Linked DNA regions of Homo sapiens. The protein of the gene in region 1 purifies or fractionates together with the protein of each later gene. This does not show direct contact. Each region holds a gene or a part of one and is shown in the gene's direction. Other genes may lie near its edges. The genes, in order: MTMR11, TUBB6, MTMR2, MTM1, DNAJA3, AIFM1 and CAD.

What was found.
Region 2: the proteins of MTMR11 (region 1) and TUBB6 purify together in Homo sapiens (affinity purification with mass spectrometry; one large-scale study listed by BioGRID and IntAct). This does not show direct contact.
Region 3: the proteins of MTMR11 (region 1) and MTMR2 purify together in Homo sapiens (affinity purification with mass spectrometry; 2 studies listed by BioGRID and IntAct, with this or other methods). This does not show direct contact.
Region 4: the proteins of MTMR11 (region 1) and MTM1 purify together in Homo sapiens (affinity purification with mass spectrometry; 2 studies listed by BioGRID and IntAct, with this or other methods). This does not show direct contact.
Region 5: the proteins of MTMR11 (region 1) and DNAJA3 purify together in Homo sapiens (affinity purification with mass spectrometry; one large-scale study listed by BioGRID and IntAct). This does not show direct contact.
Region 6: the proteins of MTMR11 (region 1) and AIFM1 purify together in Homo sapiens (affinity purification with mass spectrometry; one large-scale study listed by BioGRID and IntAct). This does not show direct contact.
Region 7: the proteins of MTMR11 (region 1) and CAD purify together in Homo sapiens (affinity purification with mass spectrometry; one large-scale study listed by BioGRID and IntAct). This does not show direct contact.

What each region holds. Positions count from the first base shown.
Region 1 is NC_000001.11:149,934,080-149,938,054, reverse strand, and holds the start of MTMR11 (myotubularin-related protein 11), read left to right. Parts: upstream 1-1,175; 5' UTR 1,176-1,393; coding exon of another isoform or gene 1,394-1,407; coding exon 1,408-1,473; exon of another isoform or gene 1,474-1,825; coding exon 1,826-1,901; intron 1,902-2,349; coding exon 2,350-2,471; intron 2,472-2,695; coding exon 2,696-2,756; intron 2,757-2,926; coding exon 2,927-3,069; intron 3,070-3,528; coding exon 3,529-3,607; intron 3,608-3,728; coding exon 3,729-3,864; intron 3,865-3,975.
Region 2 is NC_000018.10:12,321,741-12,325,240, forward strand, and holds part of TUBB6 (tubulin beta-6 chain), read left to right. Parts: intron 1-3,068; exon of another isoform or gene 3,069-3,326; coding exon 3,327-3,500. UniProt on the Homo sapiens protein: Tubulin is the major constituent of microtubules, a cylinder consisting of laterally associated linear protofilaments composed of alpha- and beta-tubulin heterodimers.
Region 3 is NC_000011.10:95,858,108-95,861,607, reverse strand, and holds part of MTMR2 (phosphatidylinositol-3,5-bisphosphate 3-phosphatase MTMR2), read left to right. Parts: intron 1-2,975; coding exon 2,976-3,077; intron 3,078-3,500. UniProt on the Homo sapiens protein: Lipid phosphatase that specifically dephosphorylates the D-3 position of phosphatidylinositol 3-phosphate and phosphatidylinositol 3,5-bisphosphate, generating phosphatidylinositol and phosphatidylinositol 5-phosphate.
Region 4 is NC_000023.11:150,567,207-150,571,420, forward strand, and holds the start of MTM1 (myotubularin), read left to right. Parts: upstream 1-1,414; 5' UTR 1,415-1,456; exon of another isoform or gene 1,457-1,512; intron 1,513-4,214. UniProt on the Homo sapiens protein: Lipid phosphatase which dephosphorylates phosphatidylinositol 3-monophosphate (PI3P) and phosphatidylinositol 3,5-bisphosphate (PI(3,5)P2). Has also been shown to dephosphorylate phosphotyrosine- and phosphoserine-containing peptides.
Region 5 is NC_000016.10:4,442,868-4,446,367, forward strand, and holds part of DNAJA3 (dnaJ homolog subfamily A member 3, mitochondrial), read left to right. Parts: intron 1-149; coding exon 150-297; intron 298-1,796; coding exon 1,797-1,861; intron 1,862-3,500. UniProt on the Homo sapiens protein: Modulates apoptotic signal transduction or effector structures within the mitochondrial matrix. Affect cytochrome C release from the mitochondria and caspase 3 activation, but not caspase 8 activation.
Region 6 is NC_000023.11:130,163,042-130,167,307, reverse strand, and holds the start of AIFM1 (apoptosis-inducing factor 1, mitochondrial isoform AIF precursor), read left to right. Parts: upstream 1-1,466; 5' UTR 1,467-1,651; coding exon 1,652-1,757; intron 1,758-4,266. UniProt on the Homo sapiens protein: Functions both as NADH oxidoreductase and as regulator of apoptosis.
Region 7 is NC_000002.12:27,220,369-27,223,868, forward strand, and holds part of CAD (multifunctional protein CAD), read left to right. Parts: intron 1-849; coding exon 850-979; intron 980-1,825; coding exon 1,826-1,968; intron 1,969-2,150; coding exon 2,151-2,292; intron 2,293-2,497; coding exon 2,498-2,669; intron 2,670-3,194; coding exon 3,195-3,380; intron 3,381-3,500. UniProt on the Homo sapiens protein: Multifunctional protein that encodes the first 3 enzymatic activities of the de novo pyrimidine pathway: carbamoylphosphate synthetase (CPSase; EC 6.3.5.5), aspartate transcarbamylase (ATCase; EC 2.1.3.2) and dihydroorotase (DHOase; EC 3.5.2.3).

The sequences.
Region 1 (3,975 bases):
GGCTTCTGGGCCACCTTCTTAGCAGGTGTATACCTCTTTGTTCCAGACTGACTTTCTGTCTCACAATATCTTCACTATTTCCACAGTTGCAGCCAAGACAGGAAACTGAAAGCTGAGGCCAGAAGGGTGGTGTACTGGGGGGAGGGGAAAATTGAGTGTCACTTTGGAAAACTGGGGCCCCCATCTAAGGATTGCTGCCTCTGTAGATTCAAAAGCAATAAAACAGCAGCTCATTAACTCTTATTTTGTATTTTATTTTCTGTCTTTTTCATGTCTAAATAAAGATTTTTGCTTTGCTGTCCCCAAGTCCCCCTCCTTTAAAGGAGCTGCAGCTCCTTCTCTCCTTGTTCCCAGCTTTCCTTACCCATCTTTGCTTCTAGGGTTGCAGATGGGAGGGACGGGGGATGGACTGCTGAGCTGAAGAGAGGTTTCCAGCCCTCACCTGTGAAAGTCCTGAACATGAATCATTCATTTGGAGATCTGGTGTCTGGGTTGGAGGGGTGGAGTCACATACGGGAATGGGCACTTATTGCCTATTGGTTGTGTATCTACGTGATGGGCAAGATTAACTGGTAAGATCTTTTTGTCCCACCCACATCCCCAAGACTTGCACACAAACTGTACTTGTGTCTGCATCTTGGACACATTTCCATCTCTTTTTATACTTCTCCACTGCAGTCTTCACATGATGTCTGTGTCATGCCCTCTAGAGAAAGATATGCAAAACCACTTTAACCAGTTTCCCTGCTTCCTCACCTAATTCTTGGGCCTCTGCTGACAAAAATCCCCCCAGGTCTAATTTTCATTTTCTTCTGGAAGAGGCGGCAAGGAGGCTTGAACCACTTTCACATTCCTACCCCTCTCCCCGCCCCAAACCCCTTTGAGAAGACAAAAGAACGGAGCTTTTAAGGGAAGTCATCACTGAGACACTCCAGACAGGTAGCCCAGATGATTCCAGCTTCATAATCAATAGAACTGCTCCCCTCAAACGGTCTCCAGTACTCATGAACAGGAAGAGAACAGGGTCTGGGATTGGGGTAAAGAAGGGAGTCGTTTTTCTCTCAGTCCCCATTTCTTCCCCACCCGTCCGTCTCAGACTCCACCGTTTCCTCTCCACTTTTCCAGAATTGTGTGTATTCTCCTTTAAGGGGTTGGGCATCTCTCCCGCCCTCTCCAGAGTCGACTGAAGTTTCCGAGGAGACTTCTCAGGCTGGGCTGGACACACCTTTCCAAGGACCCCCAAACTCTGCTCCGTGCACGTCAAATGCTCCTTTCCCTTGTGTCCAACCCCCTACCCCTCTCCCTAACACCCCTCTTCTCAACAAGACTCAGCCTCTCCCCGAGGTGGGTGAGCATCCTTGAGGTTTCCCACCCTTAACTGCTGTGTCCCCGGATGGAGCCAGAGAAATGTGGTGGGGGGGCCGGGGCCAGAGTTTCAACATTGCCCCCCAGAAGGAGGAGCCAGAGATGGGGGTAAGGAGAAGGAATTTGGGGGGTGTCGGCAAGAGGGTGAGAACGGGGATGAGGTGGAGATAAAAGGGGGAAGCAAAGGCTCTAGAGGAGGAGGAGGAGGGTGTGTCTGTCTATCAGCTTCTGCTGATGGAGCCTGGTCCGTCTTTCTCAGTCTCAAGTTCGTTGTCTCATTATCCATTAACCAGCCCCTCCCTTTACTGTTTACCAGCCCTGTTAGGTCTGGAGCTCCCCACAGACACTGATCTCAGTTTCCCCCGAGAGTGTGAGTGTAGGCCTCTACAGGCAGCTGCCTCTGGGGAGTTGGGGAGCCTAGGGGTTAACTCTAGACCCCCCTCAACCCTCTGGACCAAAGTCTGTCCAGGAAAATAGGATGCCGGAGCCCAGGAGTCGTCAGCCTAGCAGTTGCCTGGCCTCCAGATGCCTCCCAGGTAATAATGCCCTATCACTCTCCAAAGACTTCCAAATTTCATCCTACGCCAATCTTGTTTCATGCCCTCACCAAAGATACCCCTGTGTTCCTCTCGTGGCTCGAAGTACGTCTGCCTGAGGCTCGCTGTCCTCCCTGACAGCCTCTAGAGCTGGCTGAGAGCTGGACCTTGACATTCCTTCTGTTTCCTTGACCCTGTTACCCCTTTTCAAATTTACTTATTCGATACATAGTTAGTGCCTGCTATGTGCCAGGCCTTGTTCTAGGCTCTGTTCTAGTTACAGAAATTAAAAAACATTTATCTTTCCTCATAAGCTTACATTGTAGTGGGCTTTGGGGAGGATTTTAATCTTCCCTATTTAGATCTCCCTTTCTTGGAGGGGTGGGTGTATCCAAGTGTGGGCAACACTGGGAACAGTCATAACAGGGCTTCCCTTCTTCCCCTTTAGGGGAGCAGATCCTAGCATGGGCCCCAGGGGTGAGGAAGGGCCTGGAACCAGAATTGTCTGGAACCCTGATCTGTACCAACTTTAGGGTCACCTTCCAGCCCTGTGGATGGCAGTGGAATCAGGTGAGATGGTTGGGGCCACAGAAATGACAGCTAGTGGGAAATGGGTAGGGGAGTCTAGCAGGATTTAGACAAACATTATGGGTTAAGGGCTGTCTTTTGAATGTATCATTGATAATCAGTGGGAACTCTCTCTAGGGTTGTTGCCCCCTAGAAGGGGTTGGGGCTGCCAGGGTAGGAAAATGAGGGCGATTTCAGATGTCTACCCAGTCACGTGTTTCGTCTAGGACACTCCCTTGAACAGTGAATACGATTTTGCCCTGGTCAACATTGGACGATTAGAGGCTGGTAAGTTGGGGGGGGGTTTGGTGAAGGGGTTCACTGGGGTTGTTGGAACTCCCTCCTCATCCTTCCTCTGTTCTCAGAAAACAGCAGGGATGGAGTGGGATGGGCTGCAAGAGTCCCTTCTGGAGAGACTCTGGTCCATGGTTACACTGTTCTGTACCTCTTGACTTCAGTGAGCGGCTTGTCCCGAGTCCAGCTCCTCCGTCCAGGGTCCCTGCATAAATTTATCCCTGAGGAGATTCTGATTCATGGCCGAGACTTCCGGCTGCTCAGAGTTGGTTTTGAGGCTGGAGGCCTAGAGCCTCAGGCTTTTCAGGTAAGAGGCCCCTAACCTGAGGCTTTCTCCTCACCTCAGAACCTTGGGATCCTCTCCCTGACAATTTCTGAGACTCCTCCAGCCCCTGGGATCCTCTCATCATTCCCCCTGCTTCTCTCAAGGAAAGGCTAAAAGGCTGGGATAAATGATTGCGTGATGAGAGTAAAGAGCCTGCGCTCTAGCCTTACTCTATTAATTACCAGCAGTGTGACTGTGGGCAAGTTTCCTCCTCTGAAAAACCAGGATTCCTCCCAGAATCATCATTCTAGGATTCTGTGGTTCCAGATTTGTTCTCCCGACCCCAGTCCCCATGACCTGAGGAAGCCCCCTTCTCTAGGGACTGTCTTCACTGTTCTTCTTCATTCTTGGCAAAGAGAGTGGAGCAACACATGGGCTCCATTTCCTTCTTTTCACTTACTCAGCCTAAGCCAAAAGGATGGAATGTCCTTTCCTCTGCAGGTGACCATGGCCATTGTCCAAGCCAGAGCTCAGAGCAATCAAGCCCAACAGTATTCGGGGATAACCCTGAGCAAGGCTGGTGAGTGAGAGTGCTTTAGGGTAAGGAAGAGTCTGAAAAAGCAGAGGATGGCTGATGACAAAGAGCTGAGAAGCTGTCTCTGATTTTCTCCTTCCTCCTCTATGTCTCACTCCTGTTCTAGGCCAGGGTTCTGGCTCCAGAAAACCACCAATTCCTCTCATGGAGACAGCGGAAGACTGGGAGACTGAGCGGAAGAAGCAGGCAGCCAGAGGCTGGAGGGTCAGCACGGTCAACGAGAGGTTCGACGTAGCCACCAGGTGATCCCCCAGTGCACCCCAACCCTGCTGCTCTCCCAATCTTCCCTTAGTTCCTTGATCCTCTAAAGCTAGGACTTCCCACAAACTCCAGCCTCCTAGGACACCCACAAA
Region 2 (3,500 bases), on another chromosome or scaffold:
AAATCTGCAGCCCAAAATTTCATGAAAATAAATATTTAAAACATTTTATTAAAAATTAAATTGACAAAGTCATATTAGAAATTAGTATTTCAATTTTCCCAACTCTAAGTATACTGGAATAAATTGCCTTAAAGTGAAAGAGTGAGAGTGTATTTAGTAAGTCTTGGTTAAGCCTTTTTGGTTTACATTCAGAAACAAGAAAAGAATGACTGATGTAAAATGTCATGACCTGCAAGTTAGGTCGTTTCCAATTCTGCTTTCTTCAACATTGAGTTGTTGGCCAGGTGCGGTGGCTCATGCCTGTAATCCCAGCACTTTGGGAGGCCGAGGTGGGCGGATCACTTGAGGTCAGGAGTTCAAGACCAGCCTGGCCAACGTGGTGAAACCCTCTCTCTACTAAAAAATACAAAAATTAGCCGGGTGTGGTGGCAGCACCTGTAATCCCAGCTTCTCGGGGGGCTGAAGCAGAATTGCTTGAACCCAGGAGGTGGAGGTTGCAGTGAGACAATACCGTGCCACTGCACTTTAGCCTGGGCAACAGAGTGAGACTCCATCTCAAAATAAATAAATAAATAAATAAACAAAATTGAGTTAAGTGACAGATGATTGAAAATACTTTTTTTTTTTTTTTTGAGACAGGGTCTTGCTCTGTCACCCAGGCTGGAGTGCTGTAGCACAATCTTGGCTCACTGCAACCTCCATCTTCTACGCTTAAGTGATCCTCCCACCTCAGCCTCCCGAGTAGCTGGGACTACAGGCATGCACTACCAGACCCAGCTAATTTTTGTATTTTTAGTAGAGATGGGGTTTTGCCATGTTGCCCAGGCTTGAAAATACTTTTTGATAATAGCTCACTATTTGATTTTTGGGATGTAACTCTGAAGACAATCAAAGAACTGAATGACATTGTAGAACATAATTCATTCCCATTTACATATATCTGTGGACAAGATTTCTCATATATGTAAAAATTAAGAGGAATAGAATTGATCCCAAGCCTTGGCCCTTTCTGGCAGTATTTAATATTCACCCTTGGATAAATGAATTAATAGGAAAAAAATAGATATAGATAGGTAGATAGATAACATTTAATACTTTGTAATCACAGGAAATTAAAAAGAATCAACTTCAACTGATTGGAATTATTTCTGATTTTTAATATATTCTATCAATACATTTAACAGAAGAAGAGTTTTTTAAAGTGATTATATTGTTTCCAGAAATTAAAATTATATCATATGCAACTATTTGACTTATGAAAAATAATAGATGTTAACTTTAAAATAAATGAGAGGTATCTAGTATCTAGTTTTTTCAAATGTTCATTAGCCAAGTGTAGTGGCATGTGCCTGTAGTCCCTGCTACTCAAGAGGTTGAAGTGGGAGAATCACTTAAGCCCAGGAGTTCAAAGCTGCAGTCAGCTAGGGTGGTGCCAGTGTACGCCACCCTGGGTGACAGAGCGAGACCTTGTCTCTAAATAAATAAATACAGATGTTCACAGCAATGTATGAAAGCCATTGCATTATATGAAACTCGTAGTGCCCAGAAAACCAAAAACAAAAATTAGTTCCTCCCACTCCTACGTGCATCTGTTCATATGGACATACAAACCTGTGTAATTTTTACAGCTGGGAAAAAAATGCTTCTGCTAGTGAAATAATCCATTTTAAAATGAGATAAAATGAAAAATAGGATTTTAAATTTAAGAGCCAATCTTTCAGATTCAATTTTTTTTAGGTAAAGTAAGATATACATAAGCCTGTCTGGCAAAAATGCACCATTATGGGGCTGGCCCGGTGGCTCACACCTGTAATCCCAGCACTTTGGGAGGCCGAAGTGGGTGGATCACGAAGTCAGGAGATTGAGACCATCCTGGCTAACATGGTGAAACCCCATCTCTACTAAAAAATACAAAAAATTAGCCAGGCGTGGTGGTGGGTGCCTGTAGTCACAGCTACTTGGGAGGCTGAGGCAGGAGAATGGTGTGAACCCGGGAGGCGGAGCTTGCAGTGAGCCGAGATCGCACCACTGCACCTCCAGCCTGGGTGGCAGAGCAAGACTCCGTCTCAAAAAAAAAAAGCACCATTATGCAGAAAACAGACTAGGTCTCTTTCTTGTTACTTGAACTCTGCATAAAATACAGAAGTCTTTCAGACATATTAAGCTCCTTTTCTCAACTGGCCTGGAAACAATTTGAGGGCAGGAATTACTTCCTGTGCTTAGTATTTAATTATAGGGGCAGAATAAATAATTGGTTCTGCAAACATTTTGCAACAGTAATTCTGGATGATGAATGAGGGGCTCCATTAACATGAAAAAGTGTCAAGTTTTAAAAATAAAATACTTGGGCCGGGCGCCGTGGCTCACGCCTGTAATCCCAGCACTTTGGGAGGCCGAGGCGGGCGGATCACAAGGTCAGGAGTTCGAGACTATCCTGGCTAACACGGTGAAACCCCGTCTCTACTAAAAATACAAAAATATTAGCCAGGAGTGGTGGCAGGCGCCTGTAGTCCCGGCTACACGGGAGGCTGAGGCAGGAGAATGGCGTGAACCCAGGAGGCGGAGCTTGCAATGAGCCGAGATTGCGCCACTGCACTCCAGCCTGGGCGACAGAGTGAGACTGCGTCTCCAAAAAAAAGAAAGAAAGAAAAGAAAATACTTATACATAGTACAGTATAAGATTCAGAAAGCCCAAAGGAGAGAACTTTTTTTTTTTTTTTGAGCTGTAGTCCCATTCTGACGCCCAAGCTGGAGTGCAGTGGCACCATCTCAGCACACTAGAACCTCCACCTCCCAGGTCCCAGGTTCAAGCAATTCTCCTGCCTCAGCCTCCCAAGTAGCTGGGACTACAGGCTCCCCACCACCACGCCCGGCTGATTTTTGTATTTTCAGTAGAGATGGGGTTTCCTCATGTTGCCCAGGCTGGTCTCTAACTCCTGACTTCAAGTGATCCACCCGCCTCGGCCTCCCAAAGTGCTGGGATTACAGGCATGAGCCACGGCGCCCGGCCAGTAACTTATTTTTTTAATGTATACCTTTTGTTCCCTTTGAATTCTACCATGTGCAAGAATTACCTCTTTAACATGGAACAACCAGGTCAAAATGTATATACATCTTTAAAATTGACCAGTAGCTACTTTGACTTGCCTAAAAACGTACCAGTGCATCTGCTCAGCTGCACCGTTGGTGGGTGCCTGTTTCCCCGGCCCCTCCCTTTGGCTAACAGCACATCATGGAATCACTTCACACCCTCCTTGTCGGTGACCAAGCATGGTGATGGCGCAGCCCTTTCCTGTTTAAACGGCACGGGACTCTCTTTGTTGCAGGCCAGACGGGTGCAGGGAACAACTGGGCGAAAGGGCACTACACGGAGGGCGCGGAGCTGGTGGACGCAGTGCTGGACGTGGTGCGGAAGGAGTGCGAGCACTGCGACTGCCTGCAGGGCTTCCAGCTCACGCACTCGCTGGGCGGCGGCACGGGCTCAGGCATGGGCACGCTGC
Region 3 (3,500 bases), on another chromosome or scaffold:
TACTAAAAATACAAAAATTAACCAGGCGTGGTGGCGGGCACCTGTAATCTCAGCTATTGGGGAGGCTGAGGCAGGAGAATTGCTTGAACCTGGGAGGCGGATGTTGCAGTGAGCCAAGATAGTGCCACTGCACTCCAGCTTGGGCAACAGAGTAAGACTCTGTCTGAAATAATAATAATAATAATAATAATAATAATAATAATAACCATCTTTAATGCACATAGTACTGATAGGATACCACATAGTTCCACATTGATGATTTCACTTTGAGCCTTATAAAAATCCTGTGAGGTAGGCACAATAGACATTACTACCTTTAATTTACAAATTAGCAACATAAGGCTCTGAGCAGTTCCACTACTTCGTAGTGGAAGAACTAAATAACTAAATATGTTATATTCATCATCACCTATCTTTTCTGTTTCTAGTTCTCATAATTTTTCTTTTTTTTTTTTTTTGAGACGGAGTCTCGCTCTGTTGCCCAGGCTGGCACAATCTCAGCTCACTGCAAGCTCCGTCTCCTGGGTTCACGGGATTCTCCTGCCTCAGCCTCTCGAGTAGCTGGGACTACAGGCGCCCACCACCACGCCCAGCTAATTTTTTTTTGTATTTTTAGTAGAGATGGGGTTTCACCATGTTAGCCAGGATGGTCCCAATCTCCTGACCTCGTGATCTGCCCATCTCGGCCTCTCAAAGTGCTGGGATTACAGGCGTGAGCCACCGTGCCCGGCCAGTTTTTCTACTTCTAAAACAATAGTGTGGAAAAGTTGATATTGTAGACTTTTCTTATGTTCTTATTTACTGGCATTCTTTAAATGCGTTGATACTTGAATGAAACATAGATTGTTACATTTTTACCATTAAGTCATAGGTATTTAATTCTACGTACCACTTCTCCAGGTCACTGTTATTAAGGCCTAATTAACTAACACCCATGCACATTGAGATTCTACATCACATTGTTCCTTTCTTTTTATTCTGCCAGTGCCAAAAGAAACAGCATGTGTATAATTCAAGATACTTTGTTATGCTAATCTTAGAAGTTTTGTGACTCTGGTATTAAAGCTAATGACTTAGTAATTATTTTTGTAGTTTTCTTTTTTTTTGAGACAAGAGTCTGGCTCTGTTGCTTAGGCTGGAGTGCAGTGGCGTGATCTTGGCTTACTGCAGCCTCTGCCTCCCGGGTTCAAGTGATTCTCCTACCTCAGCCTCCTCAGTAGCTGGGATTACAGGCATATGCCACCATGCCTGGCTAATTTTTGTATTTTTGGTAGAGATGGGTTTCACCACATTGGCCAGGTTGGTGTTGAACTCCTGGCCTCAAGTGATCTGCCCGCCTTGGCCTCCCAAAGTGTTGAGATTACAGGTGTGAGCCACTGTGCCTGGCCTGTGGTTTTCCATTATAGTCAGAAGGGCTCTGTGAGTGTAATCGCTGGCAACCATGTGTCAAGCACACTGTTTCCTGATCACTTTTCTGTAGTTTAAGAGTAAGTAGTGCATAGAATATAAGACGATGTGAAAGAAGATAATTTTGAATCTTAATCATTTTAAATATAATTTCTTTCCATGGAACAGGATCGTTATCAATAAACAAAAATATTTGTAGGGCCCCTGACATGGTACTTTCAGAGAACTCTGTGGTTAACAGAATGATTCTGAGTATCTCACCTAGTTATAAAGATATTTACTGAGGGAAAACAAGATATCAGCTTAGGTTCCCGCACATGTTTATTTTAAAAGATAGTAAAGCCAGCATTCTAGTTTTGGATCATATACTGTCTTACTTATGTATTGTGGGTACACTGTAGTGGAGAGGCTTTGTGTGTGGTTCTACAAAATGAGGCATAATAAAGCTATTTTGAATTCTGCCTAGGTAAAAACATTTAAATAAAATGATCAGTCTTAAAATTATTCTTTTCTTATAAATTTTTTTTAAAAAATTTTTTGTAGAGACAAGGTCTCACTATGTTGCCCAGGCTGGCCTTGAACTTGTAACAATTCATGTTTCATTCAAGTATCAATCAATGCATTTAAAGAATGTCGGTAGATAAGAACATAGGAAAAGTCTACAATACCAATTTTTCCCCACCACTGTTTTAGAAGTAGAACACCTCAAGTGTCCCTCTTGCTTTGTCCACCCAAAGTGTTGGAATAACAGGCATGAGCCACTGTGCCTGGCCCTTGAAATTATCTTAATCCCCAGTTTTTTTCTAAGTGCTGTTAAGATACCAGTAAACCGGAACATGAATAACTGCATTCAGTCTGAGCATAGAAAACTGCTTAGGGACAAATGGAAGGGAAACTTGGTCTTTAGACCTTACTGTAGAGCCTGGATAATATAAACTAAACTATTCAGAGTTATGTGTCAGTAGATGGTGGAAGAATGTGGTTATGGAGTGAAGGAAGGAACACTTTCAGGCAGGGTTTAGTTCTATCAAGTCTACTAGTAGCAGGGGACTTAGGAAGAGAAGGTCCAATGCAAATGAACCCTGGGAAGGGATAGTTAGTAGGAAAATAATCACCAGATATAATGAACTGAAGACACGTATGAAATGTAACAACTACTAATCAGGTTTTATAAATAAAGAAATTTATGACAGAAAATGGGCTTTCACAGGGAAAGCACATATGCTGATAGTTTGTATCAGTCATGATATTAATCTTCAGATGTAATATCGTTAATCTCCAGTGGTTACATCAAATACTACCTCTTTCACTGGCCTATTTTGAGTCCATAAGCATAGGTAAATTTCCTGCCCTCTGAATTCTGCTTCATAGTAGAGTACCTTGTGTTTCTTTCAGTTTTTCCCAATAAACCATTATAATTTCCCTGTCTCCAGGAGCTGATGTCTGATTTATTTTTGTATCCCACATTCACAGATCTTAACATTTTACAAGATAGTTCCAAGTAACCTTATTTATTCATTTAAGTAAGTAGTGAACAATTATTAACTTGGTTCCTAAATCTTTTCTAGGATATTAGGAATTTACGATTTGCTCATAAACCTGAGGGGCGGACAAGAAGATCCATATTTGAGAATCTAATGAAATATGCATTTCCTGTCTCTAATAACCTGGTAAAATGTTTCCTGTCTTTGGAAAATTTGTGCTATAATTATTGATGTCGTATAAAGAAACTTGTCTAGGCTGTCTAGAATCTCTACATTTACATCCCTGCTTTGACATTTAACCAGATGTATAGTGTAAGTGTAACTTAGTCTCTTAGATCAATTTCTTTAGGTATGAAATAAAGGAAGCTGGACTAGCTGATTTCTGAGGTCCATTCCAGCACTAACATTTTATGATTATATGATCTTGCTATTCAGGGTGTTTCCATGATGAAAAGTTACCTGTTGTCTTCATTAGGATTTGTAATCTCCTTTTTAATTGGGAGCCAGTTAACACTAGCAATTTGGGAGGGAGGTAAGGGTAGGCAAACCCTGAGTTCCCACTATGTGCTTTAGACAGTGTTAGACTCCCACGTTTATATCATTTCACTT
Region 4 (4,214 bases), on another chromosome or scaffold:
AAAAAGAGGCACACTGGGAGAAGTGGCTAAAGAGTGGGTTGGGTTGGATTCTGGATGGCTTTGTTACTCTTCTAAGAAGTCTAGACTCTTCAATAAAGCATATATATATGCATATATAAATGATATATGAATATATGTGTATATGTGTGTGACTATGTAGAAACACACGTACACATATACACTGGTATCAGGTAAAATGCTGTTTTTAGATGCTGGAGAACTAACACATACAAGAGAAAAAAAACAGGTCATGATAAAGTCATCCTATTTACTCGAACTGCTCGCGTATAAGTATTATGCAGTACAAAGAATATTATGCTCATTTTTCTATGTGCCAGGTTGTCTTTTCTTTTTTTAATTTTTTTGACACGCAGTCTCGCTTTGTCACACAGGCTGGAGTGCAGTGGTGCCATCTCAGCTCACTGCAACCTCTCCCTCCCGGGTTCAAGCGATTCTCTTGCCTCAGCTTCCCGAGCAGCTGGTATTACAGACACCTGCCACCACGCCTGGATAATTTTTGTATTTTTAGTAGAGACGAGGTTTCACCATGTCGTCCAGGCTGGTCTCGAACTCCTGACCTCAGGTGATCCGCCTGCGTTGGCCTCCCAAAGTGCTAGGATTACAGGCGTGAGCCACCGCGCCCGGCCCAGATTGTTTGTTTTATTTGATTACACAATGAATTCTCTTCTTGAAGTTTGCCTTTCTTCTCTTTTTCCTGTCCCTTTCTTTTTACTGTATCAATAGTTGTCTGACCCAAACCTCAACAAGTAGAAGGAATTTTGGACTGAAATGTTTCCGTTCACTAAGTCTCAATTGCGTTCTTGGAAAGGTGCTGGCACAGCTGAGGGACACCCCAGCTGTTAGTTGAGTTTGTGAATTGCAGATCCTGCCCCAGAGTCAGTGAAATTTCTTTTTCCCTTATACTATCTCAACTTTACGCAGCCAACCCTGTGTACCCAATAATAGCTCAATTTAGTGGCATCCGCTAAAGTCTTGTATAGAGAAGTTTTCCCTCTGGATTTCCCCTTTACTGAAGAAAAATGGGGAGACCCAGACAAGGGTCCCGGGACTACGCTTCCCAGCCGCCTCCGCCCGGCGCCCAGTCCAACTTCCCTTACAGGGATGGCCCCTGGCATCTTGGCCCCGCCCATCCCCAGCACCATATTGCGAACTACAATTCCCAGCTGCCTCCATGCGTCGGACCCTTCAAAATGGGCTTCCCAGCAGCCTCTCGGGCGAAGAGCCCCGCCCTTCGGAGCTGCTCCCCAGGTCGACCCGGCGCACTCTTCCTGCCCCCTGCCCCGTCACGTGATGCAGTCCCGCCAACCGGCACGGGGAGGCGGGCAGCGGGCGGTGGCCGGGGGCGGGCAGGCCGTGGGGGGCGGACCCCAGAGGGGGCGGAGCAGGGCCCGGCAGCCGAGCAGCCTGGCAACGGCGGTGGCGCCCGGAGCCCGAGGTGGGTGCGCGCTCACGGCTGGCCTGGCTCGGAGCCGGGCACTGCGGGGACCCGTGGTGAGGGGATCGGGAGGAGGAAGTTGGGACTCCTTGGGCCAGCGGGTCGCGCGGGGCCTTGCCGCACCGTCAGGGTTGGGTGGGGGTTTCGTCCAAGCGCCGTCGCTGTCCCCGCGGGGCAGGGCTGAGGCCAGGGAGCAGCAGGCAGGTACCTCCGGCTTCCTCCCGTTCTCCCCGCCCAAGGTGGCCGGCCGGCGGCGGGCGAAGGTCGGGACGGGGGTAGGGGTTGGCTGGCCGTGGAGCTGGGGGCGGACGTCTCAGCCACTGCCTGGACTTTGCTTCCCCGTCCCGGGGCGGTGAGTGGGCCGGGCGTCCGCCCTGCCTCCCCGGCGACGCTCCGCGGCTGGTCCTCGCCTTGGCCCTCCGCACGGAGCGGGCGTCCGTCGCATCCCCGGTGGGCCCTGCGGAGCGGCCGCAGCCCGGCACTGGCCGCGAAGCCTCGATGGCCGCTCTCGGCCAGTGTTTCTGTGTCATACACGAGAGGTTTATCTGCTTTTGCAACAGTTGAGGGAAGATCTTAGAGGGAACGGTTAGTTCCCTGATACGCAGTCGGAAGTATGTACAGGCACGAGCAAGCGCCCGTGGCCGGGTTGCCTCCCTTAACTGTCTTTTGCTGCGCTCAGGAAGTGAAAACTAATTTTAGTATTTGCCTAAGCAAGTAAGAAGTGAATCTGCTGCAAAAATTATATTAGAGCTTTATAGACGCACGCATCGTTTGAGGCGAAGTGGGTTGCGACTGGTTTTGAAACAGATACACCAGATCTTCACAAGAATAAAATTATAGCATTTTAGAATTGACTGGCATCCTGAAGTTTACATTGTTCATTTGTTTCCTGGATGGGGGAACTGAGGCCCAGAGAGGGTAACTAATATGTCCCGGGCTTCAGGGCAACTTAATGGCAAAGCTAATATCACAAGCCAGCTCTTTGGGGGTATCTTGGTGTCTGTCTAGTCTGGATTCTTTTTACCACAGCTCAGTATTATTCCTTGTGAAATAAGCACCTTAGAGTCTTGAGACTGAGCCAGCAATTTTGCTAGACTGCAAACCATTTTGAATTTCCTTCAAAATCGGTTTACCAACCAAATAAGACAATCAGGCCTGTTACTTTGCAGACACGTTTGCCTTCATCCAACATATATATTGGGCACGATCATGTATTCACCAGATTTGATTCTGAATGGCTTTTGGCTGCTTCACAAAATCAAATCTACTTTTCAGAGATTCCACACCATGGGGGAGATTTGAACCAGTGGTGCTGCCTGCAGCACCAGTGTATAGTACCCTCCCGGGTGCTTGAGGGTGGATAACATTCACGGGGGGCTTGTAGATTCTAGTGTAGTTAGTAAATGATTGGTCTCTTTAACTTAAAGTTCTAACTACATTTATTAAGTTGTCGATGGTTTCATTCATTCATCAAACACAAGAATGCCAACGGTGGGCACTGGGAAGACAGCAAAGAGCCCCACTGCTGAGGTCCCTGCCTTATAGAGTTTATATGTGGGGAGGCACACAATAAAAAAATAAACAATGATATATTTTCTGGCAGAGATGAGCGCTATGAGAAAAAATAGAGCTCTGAAACCTTACAATGACAGTGAAACAGGCTGGCATGATTGAGAATGACTTGGGCATTACTTTGAATTTCTAGTTTTAGATTGCCAGCTGCTGCTCCAGTAAAGGAAATAAATCCAAAAGTAAATCTCTGAATCAAAGAGATTTTTTGGAGTCATCATTTCTCCAATGAGTGTCTTTTAGATGGTAAGCTCATCCCAGCCTCATTTTTACTCACATTTCCCCCCACCCCGACATGCAAACAGTAAGTGATTTCAAATACCTAGAGAGGTATTTTTCAAATCCTTTGCTGTTTTCATAGTTAGATAGCTGACTGTAGCTACAGAAAGCTCTGCTGAGGTCAATATTGGTTGTTGATTTCATGCCGGTGTCTGCTGGACTCTCAGGCTACCTTGCACAAGGGTTTCTCTTCCTGTGCAATGGTTTGTACTGTGAACCTCTTATCTGAAATGATCATCAGTCCTTGTGTGGTTTGTAAAGAAACTAGTTCATTTTGAAATAGCTCAAGAGAAAAGAAGCACTCATTCTTAGGAACAAGAGTGCTCGCTAATAAAATGGCATTAATGAGAGTTGACTGTAAAAGTTCATCTGTTTAATACCTTCTAAGTTCTCTCATATTCTGTATGTTCAATGGCTTCAAAGCAAAATTTTAAACTTTTACAGGTCTGAAAAATAATTAAAGTTACAAAAAATACTTTAATATTTTTTGTTCCAAAATGAGAGGCAGATTAACAAAATGTAGTTACTTAGAAACCACTGAAAACACATGGTTCTTGCTCTTATTGAGGGCTCCAAAATAAAGAGAAAAGTGGAGACTCTCAACGATTAATAGGTGACATTTTAAAGGGGTAACCAGAGGATTTCAAAGGCTGGAGTTTCTCATTTCTAAAGTTTATTCGATTTTGTAACAGAATAATAGATTGTTTTCATTATTCTTTAGTAATTTTCCTTTCCTGTTTTCGACCTCTTTGAAGTTCTGCTTTCATTATTTTCTAGTTTTCTAGTTCTTTATTTCCTTTTTGGCAGATGTGGGGGATAGGGACCGTCATTTGCCTAGAAGATTTTGACTCTGGATTGGGCAGCCTGCCCCAATTTGAATCCTGGACCTAATATTATCTGTGTGACTTTA
Region 5 (3,500 bases), on another chromosome or scaffold:
GCACCTGGGTTCCTAGGCAGTGTGTTTGAGTGCACATGCACATAAAAAACAAGCCTTAAAGAGACATTTTTCTTACGCACATTGTGGTCCCAGAACCACCCATCAGTTTACCTGCGTACTTAGGTTACCATTTTTCTTGTTTTTATCAGGAAACCATCAACACAGGCCCTTTTGTGATGCGTTCCACGTGTAGGAGATGTGGTGGCCGCGGCTCCATCATCATATCGCCCTGTGTGGTCTGCAGGGGAGCAGGACAAGCCAAGCAGAAAAAGCGAGTGATGATCCCTGTGCCTGCAGGTGGGTGCTTGGGCCCGCCATGTCCAGGAGCTTGGAGAGGGCAGACAGGGTTGAGGCTACCACACCGTGTGGAGAGGGTGGACAGGGCCGAGGCCACTGCACTGAGTGTGAGTGGGCTCTTGGTAGAAGTTATGGTTGAGGCCCTGGAGCCCCAGGCTGGAGGAGGAACTGGAGTCTCCTTGAATCTTTCTGTTTCTGCCAGTTATCCTTAAAATTTACACTTTGCATGTCACAATGGGGAGAAGAGACCTGACGTGCCTACTCTGCTTCTTCCTGGTGAGGGAGCAGCTTCCAACCCCCGGGCTCCTCTCCTCTCTCCCCTGTCTTAGTCACCGAAGCCATCATTGTCCCTGCTGCCACCCTATCTACATCAGCCCCACGGATCCCACCCCTCACTCCATGTCTACTGTTCCCTTGCCCAAAACTCACTTTCTGCTTTCTTTTTTCGGTTAACTTTATTCATCTTGGAGATCCCAGCTTGAGTATCCCTTCCCTAGCTAGCCTCACACCCTCCTCCCTGTTCTTTTTTTTTTCTTTTTTGAGACGGAGTCTCGCTCTGTCACCCAGGCTGGAGCGCAGTGGCCCGATCTCGGCCCACTGCAAGCTCTGCCTCCCAGGCTCATGCCATTCTCCTGCCTCAGCCTCCCAAGGAGCTGGGACTACAGGCACCTGCCACCACACCCAGCTAATTTTTTGTATTTTTAGTAGAGACGGGGTTTCATCGTGTTAGCCAGGATGGTCTCGATCTCCTGACCTCGTGATCCACCCGCCTCGGCTTCCCAAAGTGCTGAGATTATAGTCATGAGCCACCGCGCGTGGCCTGCTTTACTGTTGTTTAGATGTCTGTTTCTCTAGAGTTGTGAGCATTTCCATTGAAGAGCATGTCTCTGTTTGTAGTTATGCATTAGTGCTATCGTTTGGTTAACACCCATCACCCCAGTGAGACCATGAACTCCCTGAGGTACTGCCTAGACCAAGCCTGAGGCAGGTGCTCAGTCATCAGGTGTCTGTGTTGCATCTCTGGAAGGTTACCCATGTGCCTCTTAGATAATGACATTGTTCCTCGTTAATAAGAAACAGGAGTGGGGAAGAAGCTGTGGGTTACAAGTGGATCTTGGGTGGAAAGTGCTGTGGGAGGTCTCACAATAACTGCTCCCTTTCTTTTTTTTCTTTTTCTTTTCTTTTTTTTTTTTTTTTTAAGACGGAGTCTCGCTCTGTTGCCAGGCTGGCGTGTAGTGGAGTGATCTCGGCTCACTGCAACCTCCGCCTCCTGGGTTCAAGCGATTCTCTTTCCTCAGCCTCCTGAGTAGCTGGGACTACAGGCGTGTGCCACCACGCCCAGTTAATTTTTAGTAGAGACCAGGTTTCACCATGTTGGCCAGGATGGTCTCGATCTCTTGACGTCATGATCTGCCCGCCTCGGCCTCCCAAAGTGCTGGGATTACAGGCGTGAGCCACCGCGTCCTGCCTAACTTCTCCCTTTCTAATGTCCCTTGTAGGAGTCGAGGATGGCCAGACCGTGAGGATGCCTGTGGGAAAAAGGGAAATTTTCATTACGTTCAGGGTAGGTGCCCTGCCCCGCACAGCTTCTGTTGGGCCTTTCCTCTCTTCGGGTGGGTGTGGCTGAGGCTGCTCCCATGTAATCAAAGCTTCACAGGAACATGTCTCGCCATTCATGTTTCTGAGGGGCACAGTGGCCACCTAGATGTGGTTTTTAGCTGTTTGTTACCTTCAAGATTCTGTGCCTTGTGTGGAGAGAAGACAACTTCTTCAACATGCTAACAAGTTAGAAATACAGGTCACATAAAAATACAGGAAACATCTTGTGTTTTTATGATAAGATTGTTGATGAGGCAGTGAGTGTGAAAGTTACAATTTTACATACTGTATACAGGGGCAAACCTTGGTTTTCTGAGATGGTGGAAACATTAATGAAGACAATGCCTTCTACTGGCAATTGCCCTCCTATGTGTACACCTGAGAAAAACCCACACAAGCCTAGCAGGCGATAGGTACAAAGGGGTGCACAAGAGTCCTGTCCATGGTAGCAAGACACTGCCTTCCTCCAACAAGAGAATGGCTCAGTGAGCCGTGGTGGTCAGAGGCTGCTGCAGGGCAGTCGGAAGGAAAGAATGAGAGCTGAACTCAAGGGATGCTCCAGGCGTTGCAGGTACAGACAGCAGGGATGGAAGGCAGCTTGCCAGTGGCTGTAGGGCCTCAGAGACCATCTGTGTAAAGTTTTAAAACCTGTGAGATGGCATTATGTATTATTTAGGGACACGGAAATACATAGTAAGTAGAAGCTTGTAGGAATGATAAATGTTAAAGTCAGGGTTGTGGTTAGCTGAGGAGGGCAAGACTCACCGGTGTTTATGATGTTTTATTTTATTTTACTTTATTTTTTGAGGTGGGGTATTGCTTTGTTGCCTAGGATGAAATGCAGTGGGGCAGTCTTGGCTCACTGTAGCCTCAGACTCCCTGGGCTCAGGTGATCCTCCCACCTCAGCCTCCTGAGTAGCTGGGACTACAGGCACACGCCACCAGGCCCGGCTGACTTTTGTATCTTTAGTAAAGATGAGGTTTCACCATGTTGCCCAGGGTGGTCTCAAACCCCAGGGCTCAAATGATCCACCCACCTTGGCCTCCCAAAGTGCTGGGATTACAGGTATGAGCCACTGCGCCCGGCCTGTGATATTTTGTTACCTCCACTGGGTTGTGGGTATGACATGCTTGTTATATTATTTACTCTTCCCTTTTTTTTCTTTTTTTTTTCTGGAAAGAGAGTCTTGCTCTGTTGCCCAGTCTGGAGTGCAGTGGCATGATCTCAGCTCACTGCAACCTCCACCTCCCAGGTTCAAGCGATTCTCTTGCCTCAGCCTCCTGAGTAGCTGGGACTACAGGCATGCGCCACTACACCCAGGTAATTTTTGTATTTTTAGTAGAGATGGGGTTTCACCATGTTGGCAGGCTGGTCTCGAATTCCTGACCTCAGGTGATCCACCCACCTTAGCCTTCCAAAGTGCTGGGATTACAAGCGTGAGCCACCACGGCTGGCCTATACTTTCTAATAAAGTAAGATTTTTTTTTTTTTTTTTTTGAGGTGGAGTCTCGCTCTGTTGCTCAGGCTGGAGTGCAGTGGTGTGATCTCTGTTCAGTGCAAACTTCATCTCCCAGGTTCAAGTGGATCTTCTGCCTCAGCCTCC
Region 6 (4,266 bases), on another chromosome or scaffold:
GAACACCCTCCTGAGATTTGTAGATGAGGAAAATGAGGCACAATTAAGTGACTTGCCCAGGTGGCAGAGCCAGGATTCAATGTGGGTTGGTCTGGATCCAAGGTCAACATGTTTAACAATGAAAAATGTTATCTTTGGTCCGAAAGTATTCACCATCTGAAATATCAATCCTTTTCCTCTACTGTTTGAATTTTACTACTCATCCTTCAAGACACAACTCAAATAACTTCTTACACGAAGTTCTACCATAGTGATTCCATCCCATAGTCTTCTCTCTTGCTCTGTCCGGCACTACACCAGATATTATTTCAATGACCGGTATATGTCATCTCCCCAACTAGACAGTGGCCACTTCCTATATAGATGCTATGTCCAAATAAACCCATTGTAAACTGAAAATATCGTTAAGTCGAAACTGCATTTAATACCCTGATAAACCCATCATAAAGTCAAAAAACCGTAAGTTGAACCATGCTTAAGTCCAGATGCTCCTCGACTGACATGGGGTTAGGTCTCATTAAACCCATCATAAAGTCGAAAAATTGTAAGTCGAACCATTGTGAGGGGTAAGTCGGGGACCATCCGTACTTTTCATACCCAACAGAGCCCCTTTTATAGTACAATCCAAGAGGTAAGTGCTCAATAAATACTTGTTAAATGAATATGTAAGCTGAATCTTTGAAACAGGCACATTGTATGTTCTGCATGCAGCCAAAACATTATTTCCAATTTAGCTTATATCTGGCAGAGTCAAAACACTTATTTACACTCAGCCCCTCACCCTACTCCCATAACTGAAAGTTCTGCTTAGCAGACTTCTCTTCCCAGAAAGTCCGAGAAGCACGAACGCTTTTTGCTAACATCCTGCTCCCAAGCACAGAAACCACAGCAGGAGACTGTGTGTATCTGTAGCACCTGGTATACAGCATCTAGGACACACAACTGAACTAATAAATAAAGGTGACAGGCGGGAAGAAGAGCGCAGAATTACTTGTCCAGGAAACGGGTTGGGTGGGAAAGAGCCGGCAACTGGTAAAAGATGGAAGTACACGCCGGATCTGGGAAGCCAGGTTCCGCGCCTCGGACTCATGGAAAAACTGGATCTGGATCACTGCAAAAGAATCAGGAAGGCTTCGGTATCAAGTAACTGGTGTCCTAAAACCAAAAAACAAAGTGCGATGCCGGGGCTACGCTGTTGTGAGATGCTGTTATCAGTTCTCGTCACCAACACAGCGGCAGCACCAGGCACAACCGCCAATCAAAGCGGCCCCACGAGTCCCTCCTTGAACAGGTTCCTTAACTCGTTCAGTCCAACACTGTGCCACAAACTCGCGAAAACCGGCTACCTAGAGCCAGCGTCTTTGCGAGCTTGCGGCCAGCTAGTGCATGCGCAAATCCTCTCGCCGTGCGGACCAATCGCAATGCGGCAGCGAGTGCTACGCCTGCGCAGTAGGCCTCCGGTCGCCGTTCCCCTTCCCCGGCTCTAGCAGGCCGGCTTCTCTGTCCAATGCCCACCCGGAGCTGGGAGGAGGAGTCTGCGTAATGTGCGTGTGAAGAGACTGGGGGAGCTGGCCGGGGCTCACGGTGTTTGACCCGTCGGTCGTGCGTGAGAGGAAAGGGAAGGAGGAGGTCCCGAATAGCGGTCGCCGAAATGTTCCGGTGTGGAGGCCTGGCGGCGGGTGCTTTGAAGCAGAAGCTGGTGCCCTTGGTGCGGACCGTGTGCGTCCGAAGCCCGAGGCAGAGGAACCGGCTCCCAGGTGACTGACCCATTCCAGGCAACCTCCAAGTCCGAGGGCCTGGCGCCTTAGGCTCCCTGTGCCTTGCAGCCCTCTACCCCCGCGTCCCCGCGAGAAACTTAACACATAGTCACGTGAATTCCAAATTGGCAGACTCCGAACCCTGAGTCTTGCAAGCGGAGGAATTGGCTCAGCCATGCCGACCTGACCTTCAAGAGATTTGAACCCAGTAGTCGGCTTGAGGCCTTTTCCCGGGAGCGTTTGCTGTTCAGGGATCCCAGAACAACTGGCTGTCGGCGCCTCCCCGGCATCCCCACCCCCCACCCCCCTTTTTAGAGCAATGAGGTCAAGTAGACTTTGTCATTTACCGATTGAGACTTTAAACAGGACGTTTAAGCCCTACGCCTAAGTTTCTTGTGTAAATGAGGGTGTTATCTGCTCAGCCTTCCAAACCACAGATGAGATCCATGGATTTGAATGCCCAGTGAAACAGAAACGGTGCAGGGCAAGTAAGGAGTCGGTTGGTTGTGTACCAGACACCCAGAGAATTGGCCCAGACTTAATTGGAGATGCCTGAGCCGTGTACTTCTTGGTGGTCTTTAAGGCTTCAAAGAAACAGTTTGCAGAACGCATTGTATTTTGTTCTCCATTAAGTTGTTTCATCAAATTTTAGAGCTGGAAGGGATTTTGTGGTAAAGGTCAACCCACTCATTTTATAGATAATAAACTGAGGCACAGAGAGGTGAAATTACTTGCCAAAGGTCACATAGTTAATTAATAGGTAGAGCTAAGGATAGTTTGCTAGCCTCCAGGTCCTTAATCCCTTCGCTGCAACTCCATACTGCTTCCTAAAGTTGACCTCAAAAAGTTAAGAATGAATTCGGGTCTCTTCCCAGTAATTAGCCCATTGTACATCAGATATCCGTGAATTTATCTGAGCATGGCTTGAGCCTGCTTCTTTTCGTACTGCGTTACTTCATGGGGGCAATGAATGATCCACCTGTAGGAGTTGCTTTGAAAAAAAAATCAGTAATCCTTCAATGTCCACCCCTAGGGCATTTGCAATGTCAGAAGTTATCCTTGAGGCTTTTACAATACAGAAACACCTGGGTGCTTTAAAAATAAAAAGTGGAAAATATTTTCCTTGGGTTGTTAGGGTCTTTGCAAATGTGCATTTGAACAGTTTTTCCAGTTGCTATGCACAATGAAAATGTTTCCTGATAGGTGTATTTGAGTTATGTCCTGGGACATACTGCTCTTGGAACTTAAAACCTCTGCTTAGCTTTTAAACTAATGCCTTATCAATGGATGTCATCTTTGAGGGTTTTGTGTATTGAAATGATGGTGCTCTGTGCTTGTTGCACAGAAATTGAGATAACCTGAATTTTTTTTTTTTTTTTTTTTGAGACGGAGTCTCGCTTTGTCGCCCAGGCTGGAGTGCAGTGGCGCGATCTCGGCTCACTGCAATCTCCGCCTCCCGGATTCACGCCATTCTTCTGCCTCAGCCTCCAGAGTAGCTGGGACTACAGGCACCCGCCACCACGCCCGGCTAATTTTTTTTTTTTTTTTTTTGTATTTTTAGTAGAGACAAGGTTTCACCATGTTAACCAGGATGGTCTCGATCTCCTGACCTCGTGATCCGCCCACCTCGGCCTCCCAAAGCGCTGGGATTACAGGCGTGAGCCACCGCGCCCGGCGATAACCTGAATTTTTTCATCCACACTGGCCTTTCAAACTTTGAGTAGTTGTTTTGCTTAAGTCTCACAACTTTTACCAGCATTCTAAAGTCTGACCAAAAGTTCTCATCAATTAAATATGCATTTGCAAAGTTAAGTTGATTTATTAGACATTGGAAAGTGGTTGGTGTTGTTAGAACTACTGAAAAATACAGACTCAAATGGTTTTTTCCACTGCATGTCTTTGTTTGAAGGCAGTCTACTGTAGAATATATTCGGACTTCCTGACATATCCATCCATCTCTTTGCATACACTTGTTCTTTGTCCTTTGGCCGTGCACCAAAGTATGACATCATCTGCCTTTAAAAATGGGTGAGGGTAGTGTTAAATTTTCAAAAAGAAGTTCTGATACTCTCATTTTAGGAATTAACTCTGTTTTGTGGCTTGATTCCTAACTGCTTTTAATCTGATTTCTTTTTCATGTAGTAGCATCTACCGTGTGTTTTTGCACAGGTGGGAAAGAGCAAGGTTCGTTTATACACCATTTCTCCCTCCACCTTACCTTTAAACTTTTTTTTTTTTTTTTTTTTGAGGCGGAGTCTCGCTCAGTTTCCCAGAGTGCAGTGGCACGATCTTGGCTCACTGCAACCTCTGCCTGCTGGGTTCAAGCAATTCTCCTGCGTCAGCCTCCCAAGTAGCTGGGACTACAGGCATGCACCACCACGCCGGGCTAATTTTTTGTATTTTTAGTAGAGACGGGGTTTCACCATGCTGGCCAGGCTGGTCTCAAACTCCTGACCTTGTGATCCACCTGCTTCAGCCTCCCAAACCTTTAAACTTTAAACCTGCCTTG
Region 7 (3,500 bases), on another chromosome or scaffold:
GGGGCGCGGTAGCTCATGACTTGTAATCCCAGCACTTTGGAAGGCTGAGGTGGGGGGATCGCTTGAGCCCAGGAAGTTTGAGAGCAGCCTGGCAACATGGTGAGACGCTGTCACTACAAAAAATTCAAAAAATTAGCCAGGTGTGATGATCCACACCTGTGGTCCCAACTACTCAGGAGTCTGAGGTGGGAGAATCACTTGAGCCCAGGAGATTGAGGCTGTAGTGAACCGTGTATTTGTGCCACTGTACTCTGCACTCCAGCCTGGATAACAGCAAGACCCTGTCTCAAAAAAAAAAAAAAGGAATGGCTAGGTGCGATGGCTCACTCCTGTAATCCCAGCACTTTGGGAGGCTGAGGTGGGCAGATCACAAGGTCAGGAGATCTGAGACCATCCTGGCTAACATGGTGAAACCCCGTCTCTACTAAAAATACAAAAAATTAGCCGGGTGTGGTGGCGGGCGCCTGTAGTCCCAGCTACTCGGGAGGCTAAAGCAAGAGAATTGCTTGAATCCGGGAGGCAGAGGTTGCAGTGAGCTTAGATGTCGCCACTGCATTGCAGCCTGGGTGACAGAGTGAGACTCTGTCTCAAAAAAAATAAATAATAAATAAATAAAAAGGAAAATGTCATTTTCAGTGATCATCGGGGCACCCTGGGCCTGTGGGTTGTGTTTCGTATAGGAGAGAGCGTTGTTGGTAAATGGAAATACCTATGCAAAAGCACCAAAAGTTTGGTATATTGAAGGCCATTCAATGTGGCTGAATATAGGGTCTGTGGCCACACAATCGGGAAAATGCTGCAAAGAAATAACTTGGCCTGAGGCTTCTCACAATCTCTTTCCATCTACAGTGGTTTGAATCCTCGGGCATCCACGTAGCAGCACTGGTAGTGGGAGAGTGCTGTCCTACTCCCAGCCACTGGAGTGCCACCCGCACCCTGCATGAGTGGCTGCAGCAGCATGGCATCCCTGGCTTGCAAGGTATGGTGGCAAGCAGGGGCATATTTGGGCAGAGCACAGCATGCCTGGATGGAAAGAATCAAGGTTTCTGTAATCTGCTGGGACCTGACTCTAAGATTGTGATAGTTGGAAGGTTTAGATTGGAGTTGGGCTGGGAGAAAGAATTGAACTATCACTCAGAAAGAAAATTTCCAACACAGGAAGGAACTCCCACCTTCCATAATCATCAGCTTAGGGCTAATCTTATTTCATCACCACCACTGGATTATTTTGATGCAAATCTCAGACATCATATCATTTCATCTACAAATAGTTCAATATCTATGCAAAAGGAATCTTTAAAAAACATGATCATAATAACGTCATACACTAAAAAAATTAATAATTCCCTAATACAAGTGTCCAGGCAATGTTTAAAATTTCCCAATTTTTTTTTTTTTTTTTTTTTTTTTTTCTGTTCATTTGAATCTTGCTCTAAACAGGGTTCACACATTGCATTTGGTTGATAAGTCTCTTAATCTGTGGACCTTGTAACCTATTTGAAAACAGGTCATTTTTCCTGTATCTAGTATCCCATAGTCTGCACTTACTTGGTTACACTCCTGTAGTGTTACTTAGCGTATTCTTTTTTTCCCTTTATATTATTTTCTATAAATGGATAGATTTAGAGTTGTTCAATTCAGATGTGATATTTTTGGCAGGAATACTTCATGGTAGTATACTTCTGTCACAATGGCCCAGGATTTTGATGCACATAGAACAGCTGTGTGTGACTGGGGCTCTGGAATGGAAGTGCTTCTGGAAGTCTAACCTCACAGATGACTGAGTTGTAGGAATGTGATCCCTAAGACTGTGCTATTTTGACAGGAGTAGACACTCGGGAGCTGACCAAGAAGTTGCGGGAACAGGGGTCTCTGCTGGGGAAGCTGGTCCAGAATGGAACAGAACCTTCATCCCTGCCATTCTTGGACCCCAATGCCCGCCCCCTGGTACCAGAGGTCTCCATTAAGGTACAGAGGTAGAGTGGGAGAGTGTTGCAAGCTCTAGCACAGTAGTTATATTCTGCCCACAATTGGGGGGTGAACACAGGAGAGAATCAAAGGAGGCTTTGAAGGTAGGAGTTGGTGCAGGCATATCTTATACCCACTGAGCACAGCTGCCAACTGTTGCCCTTTATTCGTCTATTTCTCAGACTCCACGGGTATTCAATACAGGGGGTGCCCCTCGGATCCTTGCTTTGGACTGTGGCCTCAAGTATAATCAGATCCGATGCCTCTGCCAGCGTGGGGCTGAGGTCACTGTGGTACCCTGGGACCATGCACTAGACAGCCAAGGTGAGTAGCTGGGGCCTGTTCAGGGCCTCAGACAAGCAGCTTGGGTGGAAGATCTATCCCTTGGTCCAATTGCTAAAAGTCAGTAGGAGTTGCAGTGAAGAAGATAGACATTGGGACTTAACACTCTCATGGGCTGGGGGGGCTGCAGGTGTGTCTCCTGTAATTGAAATACTGATTTTGATGTCATCTTTTCTGCCCACTCCAGAGTATGAGGGTCTCTTCTTAAGTAATGGGCCTGGTGACCCTGCCTCCTATCCCAGTGTCGTATCCACACTGAGCCGTGTTTTATCTGAGCCTAATCCCCGACCTGTCTTTGGGATCTGCCTGGGACACCAGCTATTGGCCTTAGCCATTGGGGCCAAGACTTACAAGATGAGGTGGGACTTGTGGGGAGCAGAAGGGGCCCATACTTGTGGCATGAGGGGTGGGGTGTCTCAGGAATGAGAAGAGAGTTGGTGTTTATTCGTGTTGAAATAGGAGCGGGGGGGTTGCAGGTGAGGTGGCTCCCACCTGTAATCCCAGCACTTTGGGAGGCCAAGGTGGGCGGATCACTGGAGGTCAGGAGTTCGAGACCAGCCTGGCCAACATGGTGAAACTCTGTCTCTACTAAAAATACAAAAGTTGGCCAGCCATGGTGGCGTGCGCCTGTAATCCCAGCTACTCCAGAGGCTGAGGCAGGAGAATCGCTTGAACCTGGGAGGTGGAGGTTGCAGTGAGCGGAGATCGTGCCATTGCCCTCCAGCCCGGGAAACAGAGGGAGACTCCGTCTCAAAAAAAAAAAAAAAACAAAAAGGAAACAGGAGTGAGGCTACTGAGAACAGGAGATCGGTGAGAGCTGGGGTAGGTTCAGTAGTGAAGAGAGGGTGAGCAGGGCCTGTGACTCGGCATGCTTCTACCTCCAGATATGGGAACCGAGGCCATAACCAGCCCTGCTTGTTGGTGGGCTCTGGGCGCTGCTTTCTGACATCCCAGAACCATGGGTTTGCTGTGGAGACAGACTCACTGCCAGCAGACTGGGCTCCTCTCTTCACCAACGCCAATGATGGTTCCAATGAAGGCATTGTGCACAACAGCTTGCCTTTCTTCAGGTGAGCCTGGTTGACTGGGTCTGTGAAAATTTGAAGCCCTGTGGGCCTTGATGATGGAAAAGTAAAGCACGGCAGTGGATCCGAGTCCCCTGTCCCACTACCCACCTCGAGGCTGCCAGT